3 separate regions of the Homo sapiens genome follow, and regions 1 and 2 are each linked to region 3. The links come from fine-mapping of genetic effects on gene expression. A gene starts in region 3. Each other region holds a variant in brackets. All regions are shown on one strand. Distances are between the middles of the regions.

The links. PIP is the estimated chance that this variant, and not a neighbour inherited with it, causes the effect.
Region 1: its variant is the best candidate, but not a certain one, in a credible set for the expression of EPHB2 in monocytes after interferon gamma (Fairfax 2014, PIP 0.83).
Region 2: its variant is the best candidate, but not a certain one, in a credible set for the expression of EPHB2 in monocytes (Schmiedel 2018, PIP 0.82).

The regions. Positions count from the first base shown.
Region 1 is chr1:21,755,501-21,760,833 of GRCh38, reverse strand. USP48 (ubiquitin specific peptidase 48) reads left to right here. Exons shown (of 27, transcript NM_032236.8): 2 at 3,051-3,171; 3 at 4,132-4,288. Among named protein-coding and RNA genes, the nearest start is that of USP48, 25 kb to the left of the region's middle. The variant G/A (reference allele first, on the strand shown) is at 2,275.
Region 2 is chr1:22,733,120-22,738,119 of GRCh38, reverse strand. All of the region lies in intron 1 of EPHB2 (EPH receptor B2), which reads right to left. Among named protein-coding and RNA genes, the nearest start is that of MIR4684, 16 kb to the right of the region's middle. RefSeq lists an enhancer at 830-1,391. The variant T/G (reference allele first, on the strand shown) is at 2,655.
Region 3 is chr1:22,708,628-22,713,955 of GRCh38, reverse strand. EPHB2 (EPH receptor B2) reads right to left here and starts at 3,117. Exons shown (of 16, transcript NM_017449.5): 1 at 2,913-3,117. The coding sequence starts at 2,973. RefSeq lists an enhancer at 1,824-1,923 and a silencer at 4,145-4,430.

The DNA of each region.
Region 1 (5,333 bases), 950 kb after region 3:
CGTGAGCCACTGTGCCTGGCCCACCTTCCTTTTTTCAACTAATGATATCGTTATATATCACAACATTAAAAGCTTTCCCTACCTTTTTTTAAATTTATTTTTATTTTTATTTTTTTTGAGATAGAGTTTTGTTCTTGTTGCCCAGGCTGGAGTGCAGTGGCACGATCTCGGCTCACTGCACCCTCCCGCCTTCCAGTTTCAAGTGATTTCTCCTGCCTCAGCCTCCTGGGTAGCTGGGATTACAGGCTCCCGCCACCACTCCTGGCGAATTTTTGTATTTTTAGTAGAGATGGGGTTTTACCATGTTGGCCAGGCTGGTCTCGAACTCCTGACTTTGTGATCCGCCCACCTGGGCCTCCCAAAATGCTGGGATTACAGGCGTGAGCCACTGTGCCCGGCCTACCTTTTTATTTTTTGACAGCAGTAGTTTTTGTTGTTTGGTTATATTGTAATTTATTTTGTTACTTCCATATAAATTTCCAGTCTTTTACTGTTATCAGTAATCCTTTAGTGGGTATCCTACAGAAATCTGCAGAACTTTGTCCTGTAATGTTCCTTTATAGCAAAAGAAAACCTAAGCTTATGTTACATTCAGTTGTGTCTCTTTGGTTTCCTTTAATCTGGAACTGTTAGTGAATCTTTCTTTGTATTTCATGACACTGACTTATTTTGTATAAAGTCCCTTGAGTTGGTTTGGTCTGATGTTTCCTCATGATTCAATTAAGGCCATGCATCTTTGGCCAGAACATCACAGAAGTGATTCTGTGTTGTGCATTATACCAGAAGGTGTGTGGTGTCAATTAGATTCATTACTGGGTGTGTTAAATTTAAGCATTTGGTTAAGGTGGTGTCTGTCAAGTTTCTCCACTGAAAGTTATTATCTTTCCCTTTGTAATTAACTTTTTCTGAGATACTTTGAGACATTGTAAATATTGTTATTTCTCCAACTTGCCTACGTTAGCATCCGTGATGATCCTTGCCTCATTCCTTTCTGAATCTGATGTATGCCAAATGGAGATTTTTAATTCTGTCATTCCTTCCACTTTGATAGTTGGTTTTCTTCTAAAGGGAAGAGATTTTTCTTCCATCCATCTCACCATGAAATGATGGATTCTTACTTTATTCAGTAGGTTATAATCCTATTACTCATTTTGTTGCTAAATTTTGTTGCCAAATTTGACCAGTGGGACCTCCCCTTCCAGCCAACTCTTGTGCTCTTTTGACATGTCTCCACCATCTTTCAGTACATCATTTTAGGGCACAGTAAGATGTAGGTTCGTTTTCTAATTTCACTGCCCTGGCCTTGGAATCAGCCAGTTATTTCTCCAAGGAGCACGGGATTCTTTTAGTGGGTAATATTTAGAAGTCAGGATCTGTGTTTCAGAATTATTAACCCATGTCTCTATGGAAAAGAAGCCTACTAATTAGAGTTGGCTGTTTGTTCCTTTTGTCTTTAGCCAGAGGGTACTAGTAAATGAGCTTGATAACTGTTTAAGTTACTTTGGTCAGTCACACCCCCTCCCTCTCCCTCCCCCACTCCTGCCTTCCCTTCAGTCTGGATCTTTTATTTAGTTGAAATATGTTTTCTCTGTTTTGAATTTAGGGTTCCTGTCATCCTTGTTGATTCCTTTTTTTTTTTTTTTTTTTTTTTTGAGACCGTGTCTCTCTCTGTTGCCCAGGCTGGAGTGCAGTGGCACGATCTTGGCTCACTGCAACCTCCGCCTCCTGGGTTCAAGCAATTCTCCTGCATCAGCCTCCAGTCTTCAGCCTGTAGCTGGAGTTACAAACGTGTACCACCACACCTGGCTAATTTTTGTATTTCTAGTAGAGACAGGGTTTCACCATGTTGGCCAGGCTGGTCTCAAAACTCCTAACCTCAAGTGATCCTCCTGCCTTGGCCTCCCAAAGGGCTAGGATTACAGGCGTGAACCACCACGCCTAGCCAGTTGATTTATTTTTGTTTGTGTGCATGCGTGAAGTAGTGTGAGAAACAGTCACATGGTCCCAAATTGTTCATTATATGAAAAGGTACATTTCCTTTTCATTCATTCATTCATTCATTCATTCATTCATTCATTTTTTCCAAGACAGAGTCTTGCTCTGTCGCCCAGGCCAGAGTGCAGTGGTGTAATCTCGGCTCCCTGCAACCTCCGTGTCCTGGGTTCAAGGGATTCTTCTGCCACAACCTCCCAAGTAGCTGGGATTACAGGCCCGCACCGCCACGCCCGGCTAATTTTTGTATTTTTAGTAGAGACAGGGTTTCAGGCTGGTCTC[G/A]AACTCCTGACCTTGTTATCCGCCTGCCTCAGCCTCCCAAAGTGCTGGGATTGCAGGTGTGAGCCACTGTGTCCGGCCGAAAAGGTGTATTTTCTTTTAACCTTATTCCCACTCATGCTCTGTAGGTAACCAATTTCATTAGTCTCTTGTTTTTCCTTTCTGTATTTCTTTTTGTACAAAATGAGCAGAAATATGTACATGTATATTTTCCTTATATATTTCTTACACATAACAGTATACTAGAGATACTCCTTTGCATTTTGCTTTTTTTACTTAATAATGTGTCCTGGATTTATAAATTACCTTATATCTGTTCATAGATATCTTTTTCATGCTGTGTGTGTGTGTGTGTGTGTGTGTGTGTGTGTGTGTGTTTTACAGTTGCATAGTACTCTGCCATATAGATGTACCATATTGTCTATTTTTGGGCATTTGGGTGGCTTCCAATATTTTGCAATTAACAGACAGTGCTGTAATGAATAACCTTATGAGTGAGATTTTGCATTGTTGGAGGTATAGCCTAAGGAACAGTAAATCCTCAGAAATGAGATTGCTAGGTCTAAAGGTAGTTGTCTATGTAGTTTTGTTAGTGACTGCATTTCTACCAGCAGTATATGCATGCTTTCTTCTCCACACCCTCACAAACTGAGTGTCTTATACTTTCTCAGTTTTGCTAATTTATAGATGAGAAGTGGTATCTCATTTTAGTTTTAATTTGTTTGTCTCTCATGAAACTATGGTCTTTTAAAAATTAAAGGTTTTTTTTTTCCCCTTAGACGAAACTGCAAAGGAAATCCGAATTGCTTGGTTGGTATTGGTGAGCATATTTGGTTAGGAGAAATAGATGAAAATAGTTTTCATAACATCGATGATCCCAACTGTGAGAGGAGAAAAAAGGTAAACCATCATTTTTTAAGCGATTGCTATATGCTGTTTTTTGTTTTTGTTTTTGCTTTTGTTTTGGGCCTGTGATCAGAAAACTCTACTGATTTCAGGTAACCTGTGCAGCTTTAAGATAAGCAGTAGAACTTAAGACTCTAAGCCACTTGAATTGGAACACTTCTTAATGATATGCTTTAAAACAGGCAGCTGCGTAATTCAGTAAGCCTTTAAATAATAGTTTTAGTTTGAATGCTGATTCTATGTTTGCTTTAACATTGCATGTTTTATTTTGAAATCTTAACGCCTCTTTAAAGGAGATGGTAATTCAAGGGAACAAACTCATGATGATAGCACTTTGCTTTCTAGGGCTTGTATTTTATATATAATTTTGCTTTTTAAAAATATACATTAAATTTTCTAGACATAAATCTTAGCATTCACGAAATATCCAAGTTTGTTATATATAGATATTTTAATAAAATAATAATTCTTTGTAAGGTCAGGAATTCCCAACCTTATCTTTGGAAAAAGTTGCAGCCAGTTCCCTCTACCACCGCCAATCTTTAAAATCTCTAGAATATAAAGGAAGTTTTCTGCATAAGTTTTACTTTGTCATTCTGCTGAATGCTGGCAGTTTAGAAATACAGAAAACATAAAACCTATATACGCTTGTTCAAAACCGATCTTTTCTAGAATCCACTGTTCTAATTTTAGATTTAAGTGGCTGGAGAAGACGATATGCTAGAGATGAGCAGTGATGCCGTCCGAAGTCTTTTTCACTCCTGTGGTCAACCCAAAATGGGGCTTTCATGAAAATTATGCCCCACCTCCAGCCAAGAGAAACTTAAGGTGGCTATACCATGTTGGTTGTGACGGTCTTACACATTTTTAATCTGAAAATTTAAGAATAATGCTTAGAAATTGGTTGTTTAAAGGAAAATGGGTTTTATAATTATGAATTTTGTATTTTTGTAGAACTCATTTGTGGGCCTGACTAACCTTGGAGCCACTTGTTATGTCAACACATTTCTTCAAGTGTGGTTTCTCAACTTGGAGCTTCGGCAGGCACTCTACTTATGTCCAAGCACTTGTAGTGACTACATGCTGGGAGACGGCATCCAAGAAGAAAAAGGTGGGTGGAAAGGGGTGGGGGAGAGCTCTCTTCCTGAACATTTTTTTAAACTTTTTTTTTTTTTTTTTTTTGAGTCTTCCTCTGTTTCCCAAGCCAGAGTGAAGTGGCGCCATCTCGGTTCACTGCAACGTCTGCCTCCTGGGCTGAAGCGATTCTCCTGCCTCAGCCTCTTGAGAAGCTGGGATTACAGGCGCCCGCCACCACGCCTGGCTAGTTTTTGTATTTTTAGTAGAGACAGCGTTTCACTATGTTGGCCAGGCTAGTCTCGAACTCCTGACCTCAAGTGATGTGGCTGCCTCGGCCTTCCAAAGTGCTGCGACTACAGGTGTGAGCCACTGTGTCTAGCCTAAACTTATTTTATTATTATTATTATTATTTTTTTAAGACAGTTTCACACTTGTTGCCCACGCTCTAGTGCAATGGCACAATCTCGGTTCACCACAACCTCCGCCTCTCAGGTTCAAGCAATTCTCCTGCCTCAGCCTCCCGAGTAGCTGGGATTACAGGCGTGCACCACCACGCCCGGCTAATTTTGTATTTTTAGTAGAGACGGGGTTTCTCCATGTTGGTCAGGCTGGTCTTGAACTCCCGACCTCAGGTGATCCACCCGCCTCGGCTTCCCAGAGTGCTGGGATTACAGGTGTGAGCCACTGTGCCTGGCCTAAACTTATTTTTTTTATAGAGACAGTGTCTTGCTCTGTTGCCCAGGCTGGTCTTGAACTTCTGGCCTTAAGCAGTCCTCCTGTCTCGGTCTCCAAAAGTGCTGGATTACAGGCATGAACCATGGTGCCAGGCCTTGAATAGCTTTTACCAGCCTGCAAAACCTTTGCACCCCAAGGAGTAATATTTTATCTTTATTTTACAGATGGTATATTGACTTGCTGAAAGCCACAATTGGTAGTAAGGATACAAATATTCAGAGTCTGATTAGAAGACAGAAGCTACACAATAATTTGAACAGAAAAGGTTTTTTTTTATTGTTTGTTTGTTTTTTGAGACAAGATCTCACTTTTTCGCCCAGGCTGGTGCGAGCACAGCTCACTGT
Region 2 (5,000 bases), 24 kb before region 3:
GCCCCTAAGTGGAGAATTCTCAACTCTGCGATAAGTTAGTATTTTTTTTATCTTTAAATGGTTTGACCAGGTCTTGCCTCAAGGTAGAGCATGAACTCCAAGACCTCTGCGAGGCTAGGTTGATGTAAGAGCTGCCTTGTTCTGGCCTGAGACCCAGATCCAGTCTCATTCCAGGTTCTACCTAGTTTCAGAGGCATCTGAACAGCCTGTGCATCATGATAATTTCCTCCTACTTCCAAGGTCTTGTGGGAGTGTCATGCTGAGTTGTAAAAGCCTCTAGGATAGAGGGGGAAGTTATTTTCATGGGCAGACAATGTATTCATTCATTCTCTCATTCATAAAACATCAACCCAAGAGCCTGTTGGTAACAGACTCTGTGCTAGGCACTGGAGGCCCAACGATGAATAAGACAAGAAAGTCTCTACACTCCAGTTTAATGGGGGAGGGTGATGTAGACAAAATTAGCCATACCTTGGTGTTATAAGAATTGTTAATCAAGAGCTGAGGGTAAGTACAAAGAAGGATATACCAAGGAGGGGACATTTGAGTTGGGCCTTGAAGGATGAGTAGGAGTTCACTAGGCAGAAGCAAGAAGGGCATTCATTCTAGGCAGCAGCTGGGGCCTGAACAAAGATCTGGGGGCATGGGAGTTTATAACATGTATGTATGAAACCTATAGTTTATGGATGAGAATGACATCCACCTAGAGTTTGTGGGATGACAAGGACAGGCAGAGAAGGCCTCAGGGGCCAGGTCAACGAGCAGCTGTTTGACCTTGATTTTTTTAGATAAGGAGCCCAAGGTCTGAGCAGGAGGGTAATGTGGTCTCAGCTGCAGTTTAGAAGACTCAGTGGTGATGCTTTGTGGGGTTCAGAAGTCACTGAGATGGTCCAGGTGGGGCAGGGGGTAGACTTGAGGTCAGGTGGTAGCTGTAGGAACAGAAAGGCAGGCAGTAGCTGAATGGCCAGGGTGAGAGGGAGGCACAGCTAAAAAGGGCCGTGCTAGCTCTGGCCCTGGTGGTCTCTCCTGAGAACCACAAGGCAGCCAGATTAGAAACGGAAGCACTGGATGACTTGCCCAAGATTCCTCGTCACGCCGATGGCTGGATTCGCAGACACCTGGAGGCCTGGGGGAGTCCCAGGTTCTCCACTGTGTCTTCCCTTCTGACTCCACCCAGAGAGCCATGGCCAAGGTGGCGGCTGATCCGAGCCAATCGGTCTCCCCCAGTCTCCCCTCCTCCCCAGGTCTGACAGGGAGGGGGCCGGCTGAGTCCTGTGTCTCCATTGGCCCAAAGCTCCATTATCCTCCTAGGCAGGGTGACCCCCTGCGGCCGCCCCACAGTGCGCTGGGAAAAAAAGGCTCCTCTCTGACAAGAAAGCCCCATTGCAGGCTGGGCCCGGGGTCTGGGCAGCGCCTTTATCCACAGTGACCCTGCCAGAGTGTCAGCGGCGCAAACATGCCGCGCTGCGGAGGCTGCCCCCACCCTCAAAGGGCCTCGTGCTGAAGCTGTGAAGGGGCCCCCTCCAGGGCCTCTGGGAACCAGACCGCGGCCTGCAGGCCCCACCGAGGCTCCCAGGCTCCTTCCCACCCCCAGGGAACCATGCTTTGGCCAACACAGTGACTGAGGCGGGTCTGTGGGGTGGGGGCTGCTAAACAGAGCCTCGGCTCATGCATTGGGAAGGGGGGCCCCATGGAACTCTTTGTCCAGCCTCCAGAATTATTTGGGAGGAAAGTTGAAGGGGAGAGGCTTTTACGTCTCTGGGCCCAGCACCAGGCCTCATTCCCCACACCAACCAGGCAAGAGGGGCCGCCTTGTCCCCAAACGTTCCCCCATACCAGCCTTATCACTCCTCGCCCAATCCCCTTTCAGGTACAGTCTTGCCAAAGAGGAAAGGGAGGTCTCCTGAGCAGCCTCCTGTAGACCCCCGTGTGTACGATGAGCTCTCTTCCACAGCCCCCCGACTCTGCTTATGACAGCAACAACGATGACCACTACGATCATCTTTATTGAGCACTACCTTTGGGCCAGGGACAGGGCCACATGTCTCTTAGTGCTATTTATCATCCTCATTTTACTAATGGGGAACTGAGGCTCAGAGAGGGAAAAGAGCCTATCGAAAGTCACAGAGCGTGTAGGTGTAAGCCAGGATTTGAACCCAGGTCCCTCAGAGCCCACACTCTTATCCACTGTACAAGATACCTTAGGCTGCTCCGGTCCTGAGGGGTGCACAGGCAGGGGCTCTGCCCTAAGTCTAGTGACCCTACTGACCTCCCAGCCCTCTCCCTCAGTCCTGCTCTCTGGGCCGACTCACTGCCAAGGGCGTCCCAAGTGCCCTATAGGAATCATTAGGCTGTCCCAGGGTGGGAAGAGGATTTCAAGGAAGGCAAATTCCCATGAGTTAAGCCAAATGAGTCAAGCTTGAATTGCAGACTTTCCCATCATGTAGAGCTGAGACAGGCTCTACCCAGGGCCCTCAAATCAGACCCCTGGGAAGTGGGAGAAGGAGGCTCCCTGCTGGGAGTTCAGAGGTTGCTAGAAACCCTGTCCTCAGTAGCTGTTCCTGCTCTCAGGCCTGGGGTAAGCCAGCAGTCTTTTCCAAAGGCAGAAAGTATGGACTGTAAACTTCCTTAGAGGCCCTGGTTCTACTTCTGCT[T/G]CTTCTTCTTCTTCTTTTTTTTTTTTTGATACCGGGTCTCACTCTGTTGTTTAGGCTGCAGTGCAGTGGCATGACCATGACTCACTACAGCCTTGACCTCCTGGGCTCAAGCGATCCTCCCACCTCAGCCTCCCAAGTAGCTGGGACTATAGGCACATGCCACCATGCCTGACTAATTAAAAAAAAATTTAGTAGAGATGGGGTCACACTGTGTTGCCCAAGCTGGTCTCGAACTCCTGGCCTCAAGCAATCCTCCTGCCTCACCCTCCTGCCTCACCCTCCCAAAGTGTGCTGGGATTATAGGAGTGAGCCACCGTACCCAGCAAAGGTCCTTGTTCTTAACAGCAGCCTCAGGAAGATGCTCCCACACCATGCCCCACAGGCCACAGGAGTCGGTAGAGCAGGTTCATAGCCCTGCTGTGCAGCCTTAGTCAGTGTCACCCTCCCTTGAGCCTCAGTCTCCTACCCTGCAGGGGTGTTCTGAGATAATGTATGTAAACCATCAAACACCCTGCCCAGCACAAAGCAGAGGCTCAATAAAACAAAGTTGTATTCATTATCATCAGTACCATGGAGCAACACAACAGAGGCTTGTAATCTGTAAGTCCCCTGAATTTTTTCATAAAAGTATCTGTGTGTCTCCAACTTTCTAGGAGGGGGCAGTTCATAGCCTGTGGCAGCTTCTCAAGGATCTTCAGGACCCCAAAGAAATTAAGAACCACAGCAAAATAATACTGACATTCAGGCCGGGAGTGGTAGCTCATGCCTGTAAATCCCAGTGCTTTGGGAGGCTGAGGCAGGCAGATGCCTGAGGTCAGGAGTTAGAGACCAGCCTGGCCAACATGGTGAAACCCCATCTCTACTAAAAATACAAAAATTAGTCGGGCGCAGTGGTGCACACCTGTAATCCCAGCTATTCGGGAGGCTGAGGCACAAGAATCGCTTGAACCCAGGAGGCAGAGGTTGCAGTGAGCAGAGATTGCGCCACTGCACTTCAGCTTGGGCAATAGAGCGAAACTCAGTCTCAAAAAAAAAAAAAAAAAGAATATTGACATTCTGGTGGTACTTTATTGAGTGTATATATCTCTGGGCTTTGGTTTCTCTGCATGAAGACTGGGGAGCCCTACCCTAACTGTCTCACAAGGATGTTGTGAAGCTCAGGTGAGACTGTGGAGGGGAAAGGATGCTGTGAACCACACTGGGCTGTGCATGGGCTGTGCCGGGGGGTAAGATTTATCCTGCTCCTGCTAAAGAGGCAGCCAGGACCAGCTGCCTGCATGCAGGCTGGGCCACAGAGGCAGCTGCTCCAAAGCCCCCTCACAGTGAGGCCTGATAGAGACATGAGCCCCCTGCCCAAGCCCAGGCTGGCCCTGGGTGGGAGGCCCAGGGCAGAGCTCTGTCCTTGACTGAGAAGCTCCTGACAGGGCCACTCCTGCGGCCTCTGGGCTGGGGTTTTGTTTTTGGGGATCAGGAGGCCAAGAATCCAGTCCCAGGTTCAACTTCTAGCTCTGTCCCCACCAAATCACACCAGGCCAAGAATCCAGTCCCAGGTTCAACTTCTAGCTCCGTCCCCACCAAATCATACCAGGTCAAGAATCCAGTCCCGGGTTCAACTTCTAGCTCTGTCCCCACCAAATCATACCAGGCCAAGAATCCAGTCCCGGGTTCAACTTCTAGCTCTGTCCCCACCAAATCATACCAGCCTGATGTAGTAGCGTGTCATGAGCATGGGCTTTGGACTTAGAGAATCGCGGGTTCAAATCCCATTTCCGCCCCTTACTGGCTATGTGGCCTTGGGCAATTTACTGAACCTCTCAGAGATTCAGTTTTCCTCTAAAACAAAAATAATAATAATCCTGCCTCACAGTGGTGGATTCAGCATGGCAACATGGCACATAATAAGGCCATGGTATATGCTGATTTCCACCGTGCAAAACTACTCCGTAAAATCAATCCTTTAAAATGACTGTTAACATGAATGTTAAAATTGTATAACGCTAATATTTTCATCATTCATATCATCACTCATCACTGTGTGACTTTGCACAGGTCCTTATCCTCTTTGGGTCTTGGTTTCCCCATCTGAAAATAAAGAGGCTGGTTAGAAAGGCAGCCTGGGCCAGCCACAGTGGTTCACGCCTGCAATCCCAGCACTTTGGAAGGCTGAGGTGGGCAAATCACCTGAGGTCAGAAGTTTGAGACCAGCCTGGCCAACACGGTGAAACCCCGTCTCTACTAAAAATACAAAAATCAGCCAGGCGTGGTGGCAGGCACCTGTAATCCCAGCTACTCAGGAGGCTGAGGCAGGAGAATCGCTTGAACTGGGGAGGCAGAGGTTGCAGTGAG
Region 3 (5,328 bases):
TCCATCCTGCTCGCCGCCACTTCACATGCTCCATGCTTTCTTTCACTTGGTCGGGGGGCGGTCTCACAGTTTGGGGGAGATGCTAAGCTTACCGTCCTAACCTAGAAACCCCCCGTATACACACACACTCTCCTCTCCCCCATTCCGAAGGCTGGAGCTGGGGATTTCCTGGGGACTTAACCGGCAGGACAGCCCTTTACGGGCTGAGGAGACAAGGAAGGAGGAAGGGAAGGAAGTGGTAGCCATGTGGCTCTGGGTTCTGGGAGCCAGAGGGGCCACCCTCCTACTGCTCCACGGCCCAGTCCTGTCTCCACAGACTGTGTCACCCTCAGGAGGACCCTGGTGTCTCCCAAATGTGCACAGGCAGCACCGCCCCCCAAATGTGCACAGGCAGCACCGTCCATCCCTGGCTTTGAAGGGGGACTTCTCCCACCCATCATCTGGTCTGATCCTCACAAACACCCCAGGAGACAGGCAGGACAGGCGCTGTCATCACTCTCACTAGACGGGGGAGGAAAACGAGGCTCAAAGAGGGGAAGTAGGGCGTAGACGATGGACTCTACAAGATATTTAGCCAGGCCATTTTACACCCAGAGAAACTGAGGCCCCCACAGGGAAGGGACCTGGCCCAGGGTCCCATAGTAAATGAGAAGCAGGCCCTCTGACCTCCACCTCACACCATCTCCCCATCCATTCGGCCAGCTCCTTATTAACCACTGATGGACTAACTTCCTAGTGTCCAGGGGGCAAACGGAACAAGAGCCTGAGGCAAGCATTGGGGTGCCTGCTGCAGCCCTCCTCCCACCCTGCTGTGGCTTCCCTTCCCCACCCTGCCCCCAAGTGGCAGTCCAAGTAGCCATACCCTCCTGTGACGTCAGCGCCCACCAGCCCTGTGTCCAGGGCCAGGGTCCAGGCTGGCCACAGCCCACCAGATTCCAACCAGCCTCTGCCAGGGCGATGGCTGGACAGATGTGGCCCTTCCATCTACCCCAGAGTAATTAAAAACACACCCAGGCCTCTTCCAACGAGAGAGGGGCCAATTTTCTTCCCCTCCAGCACCGCTGACTGCAACCTAAATAGCAATATTTATGCCAAGCTCCCCATAATACTGTAAACATCCCAATGTATAGCGGGCCAACGCATGAGTCATTTCCCCAAAGCCAGAGTTAATAAGTGGTACCTCAGCCATATTCCACAGAGCTCCCGCCAGCAGCCAGGCCCCAGGGCTGCCCTCCACACCCAGGGCCCGTGGCACCCTAGGTGCCCCAGTGGCCCCACTCCGGGAAACCGCAGTCAGCCGCCAAATCCCCCAGGAGCCGAAGGACAGCTGCCTCAGTGCCAGAAACTGTGGCTGCCATCCAGGGACACCCCCCACCCCCTGACTGCGGTCACTAAAGTGCTCATTACCGAAAGAGAAACTGAAGTTGTAGCACAGGGTCCCCCACGACGCCTTTCCCAGAGGCCGCAGCCCCCACGTCTGGTCTGATATGCGTTTTTTCTTAGGCTGCAAGAAGGGAAGGGGCGCCCCACAACCCTAAAGTGGCCTGAGAGGTGCACACAGACATCATCCCTAAGCCCAAGGGAGCAGAACCCTGGAAGGGCTCACGCAGTTTAGGGGCAACAAAACCCAGCTAAGTGAGTGCTGGTTTCAAAGAAAGACCACAGACCTGGGTTCTATTTTTGTCACCCAACGGCCCTGGGTGAGACATCGGACTTTTCAGAACCTCGGTTTCCCTATCTGTTCAAGAGAAGTAGGAATCATACCTACCTGTCTTCCCCGGAAGGTGTATTTTGAGGGATCCAACACGCTGGTGGGCGGGAAAGCACTTTGTAAAGCTTAAAGTACCTTGTCAACTGTGCAGCACGTTGTAAACCACAGAGAGCTGCGTATAGTGCGAAGTACTTCATAAACTGTAAAGTGGTTTGAAAACTGTAAAGTGCAGTACACGTGAGAACCATTATTCACGTTCGCTTCTTGCCCTGCAAGCTCGGCCATTCCTGGTGGACACACCCAGACCGCACTAACTTTCCCTCCAGAGCAAGCTGGCTCGGGAGACCTAGCAACTACCCTTGCCCCCCTGGGGGTCGAGTGGTACCAATACACGAGGCCACGGGGAGAGGGCCCGCGACCCTGGCCAAGGCCAACACATGGCAAGAGCATCTGGTCCGGCCCCGGCGGCAGCTGGAGAGTTCCCGGGGCTCCAGCCGCCACGCTGAGCGCCGCGGCCGCGGGGCGGTGGCCGGCGGGGGTGCCCGGAGACCTTGCGCGGCGGAGAGATGCCCACAGACCCATCCCCCGCGCAGTCCTCTCGGGGAGGGGACCCCATTGTACGCCGCGGGCGATGGGCAGGCACCGACGCGGGGGCTGGCGCGCTCCCTTCCACTCTGCCAGTCCCTGCTCTCCGGGGCGCCGGGCCCCATCTCGGGGGCGCGGGCCGGGAGCCCCCACCCCGGCCGGCCGCGGTGCCTCCCTCCCTCTGCTCCCTGCCAAACTTTCCAGCCCCGACCGAGCGCCGGCGCCCCCCCCGCCCCCCGCCACGGCCGGGCCCGCGCCCCTCCACCCTGTGCGGAGCAAGACCAGGCCGGCGCGAGGCGGCTGCCCGAGCCGGGGGCGGCGAGCGCGCGTGGGCAGCCCCCAGCCCTGGGCGGCGCTCGCCGGGCTGGCTACAAAGCCTCGGCAAGATGGTCCCTTCGCCTCCTCCTGGCACAGTCAATCAGCGCCCGCCGCTCCCCGGGCGCCCGCGGGGCCCGCTCCTCCCGGCGCGGCCGGACACACCTCCCCGCGGCCACCTGCGCCCGGCGCCGGCCCCCGGGCAAACTTTGCGGGCCGCGGAGCGGAGGTGGGCGCCGGCGGCCGCCCGTGCCCGGCCGCTCCCCGCCCCCATCGCCCGCCCGCCCGCCCGCTCGCTCACCTTCCACGGCGGCGAGCAGCGGCAGCAGCAGCAGCGCGGCCCCCAGCCTCCGCAGAGCCATGGCTGCGCTTCCCGGGGCCTCGGGCCGCGGCGCCGCGGGGCCCGGACGGCCCGGGCGGGAGCGCGCGCCCCGGGCTCGGGGGGCCAGGGGGGGCGGCAAGGCGCGGCGCACACACAGCCGCCGCCACCGCGCAGCCAGCAGAATGAGCCATCCAGCCCGGGCAGAACGGGGACCCGGGCTCCGCCAGCGCTGGGCACGGCCCACCTGAGCCGCGGGCGCGGGGGGAGCCTCGCCAGGCCACCGCCCCCCGCGCGCGTCCCGGCCCCCGGCGGCCGCGCGCCGCCGCGAGCCCGGGTCCCCACACCGCGCCCGTAGGGTCACCCGGGGGCAGCGCGGGCGCTGGAGCGCGGCGACCCCGCGTGCCCGGGCCACTGAGACCCCGGGCTCCCCCCGCGCAGCAGTGGTCTCTCCCGGCGCTGTGGCTCCTCCAGATAAAGCAGCGATTTCAGCCCAAATGTTTCTCAATTTTTATTGAATGCTGCAAAGCCGGAGAGCGTCTGGCGCGGCTGACAGGGGCAGGGAGAGCGGACGGAGGGGAGGGCGGGGGAAGGGGCTTCCCAAAGCGGGGGCCGGCACTACCTGTCAGGGCAGGGAGTCCCACCCCCTCGCCTCAGCCCTGCCACCCGGGTCCCTGCGGCTTCGAAAGGGACCGAACTGCAATGAATGGAAAAAAAAAAAAAAGGGTGTGTGTGGGGGGGTGGCATCTGGGAACAAAACAGGCGGCTTTCCCAGGCACCGGGGCTGGGCCGGGGCCTCCGAGTGGGAGACTGGGCCTTGGCGCTACCCGAGGGCCTGGGGTGGGGCTGGGGGGAGGGTGGTCACTCGGCACTGGTGGGCTGGGCCCTTGCAGGCAGACCCCAGGCCTCCCCTCCCTGCCCCGTTGTTCTGAGCTGGCCCGCGAGCCCCTCACTGCAGACTCGTCTATGTCTGTATTAGATTTCTCCTTCTCTGTTGATCTTGCTCCCAGTGCAGTTTGGGGATGGGGTGAAGGAAGTCCATGGGTGAATCTGGGGAAAGCCCCAGCCACCCCCACGCTGTGGAATGGACCTGTCTGTGCAGCCGTGGTTTTGTGCATGGCCGTCCCTTCAGGGAGAACACAACCCTAGCCCCAACCCTGTGGGCCCTGCCCTGCTCTGACAGCCTTCATCACCATCATCATTAACAGACTTTACTGAAGTCTGGATGGTGGGCGGCTGCAGGGGGCCTGCGGCAATCACCCAGGCTGAACCCCTGGCAGTTGGGAGCCCACTCCTGACTGAGGAGACTTCATCAGGAGCTCGGAACTCTGTGGAGTGAGTGGAGGAGCCCAGTGCAGGAGCAGGTGGTTTAAGTCGAAGGCAGTTTAAGTCTATGCTACCCACATCTCCTGTGTCCCTTTGTCCCACATACTATCAAAATGTCCCAGCAATCCCTCCCCTTCAGTCCATACCAAGAAAATGGGGTACCACAGGCTTTGGGAATCCATCTAAGGTTTGGAAAGTTGGGTCGTCTCTTGAAGCTCCAAGAGTCCAGTTGAAATGGGTGTCATCCTGGAAGGCCACCAGGAGGAGGCAGCCTGGGAGGGAGACAGAACAGGAGTGAGCAGGGAGAGAAGAGAAACAGGAGATTTCCCCCTATTAAGCCTACAGACCCCTCACCAGGGTCAAGAGCCAGTGGGGTGGGGCTGGCAGAGCCACTACCGTTCCTATTTGAGTGAGCAGGGAGAGAGGAGAAACGAAGATTCCCCCTTTTAAGTCTACAGACCCCTCACCAGGGTCAAGATCCACTGGGGTGGGGCTAGCCTTTATTTTCAGTTCTTGCCTGTCAGACCTTCCAGGAGACCCAGGGTTTGAGGGACCCCAAGCTTGGCCCATCTTGAGGCAATCCTCCCTCTCCTGGACAGAGCAGCTCTAAGCTCTGGCCCCCTCCAGTGCATCCAGGTGCTAGACACTTCCAAATTCAAGAAGTCATTATTGAGCACCTATTATGTACTGTGCAGATTCAGCTTTTTTGCTTTGTTTCTATTTCCTGGGACCCTTGACTCCACCTACCCAGGGCCAGTGGTTACTTCCTTTTTGTCTCAAAATAGGAAGACCAGTGACTCTGCTTTATTGAGGACATGGTACCAGGCACTAGGCTGGGCTTTGTTTATTTCTTGTCCCCCTTAATCTTTCCTACTCTGTGCACCAGGTGCTGATCTTTTCACATGATGAAACTGAGGACCAGATAAGTAATTTGTCCAAAGTCACATGGCAAATTGGGCTAGGATTCAACCCCATGTCCGTCCGACCCCAGTGCTGACCTCCTTGTACCTTTCACAGAAGCACAGAGCTCAGGGCTCTTCCCACAGGCTATTTCACAGATAAGGAAACTGAG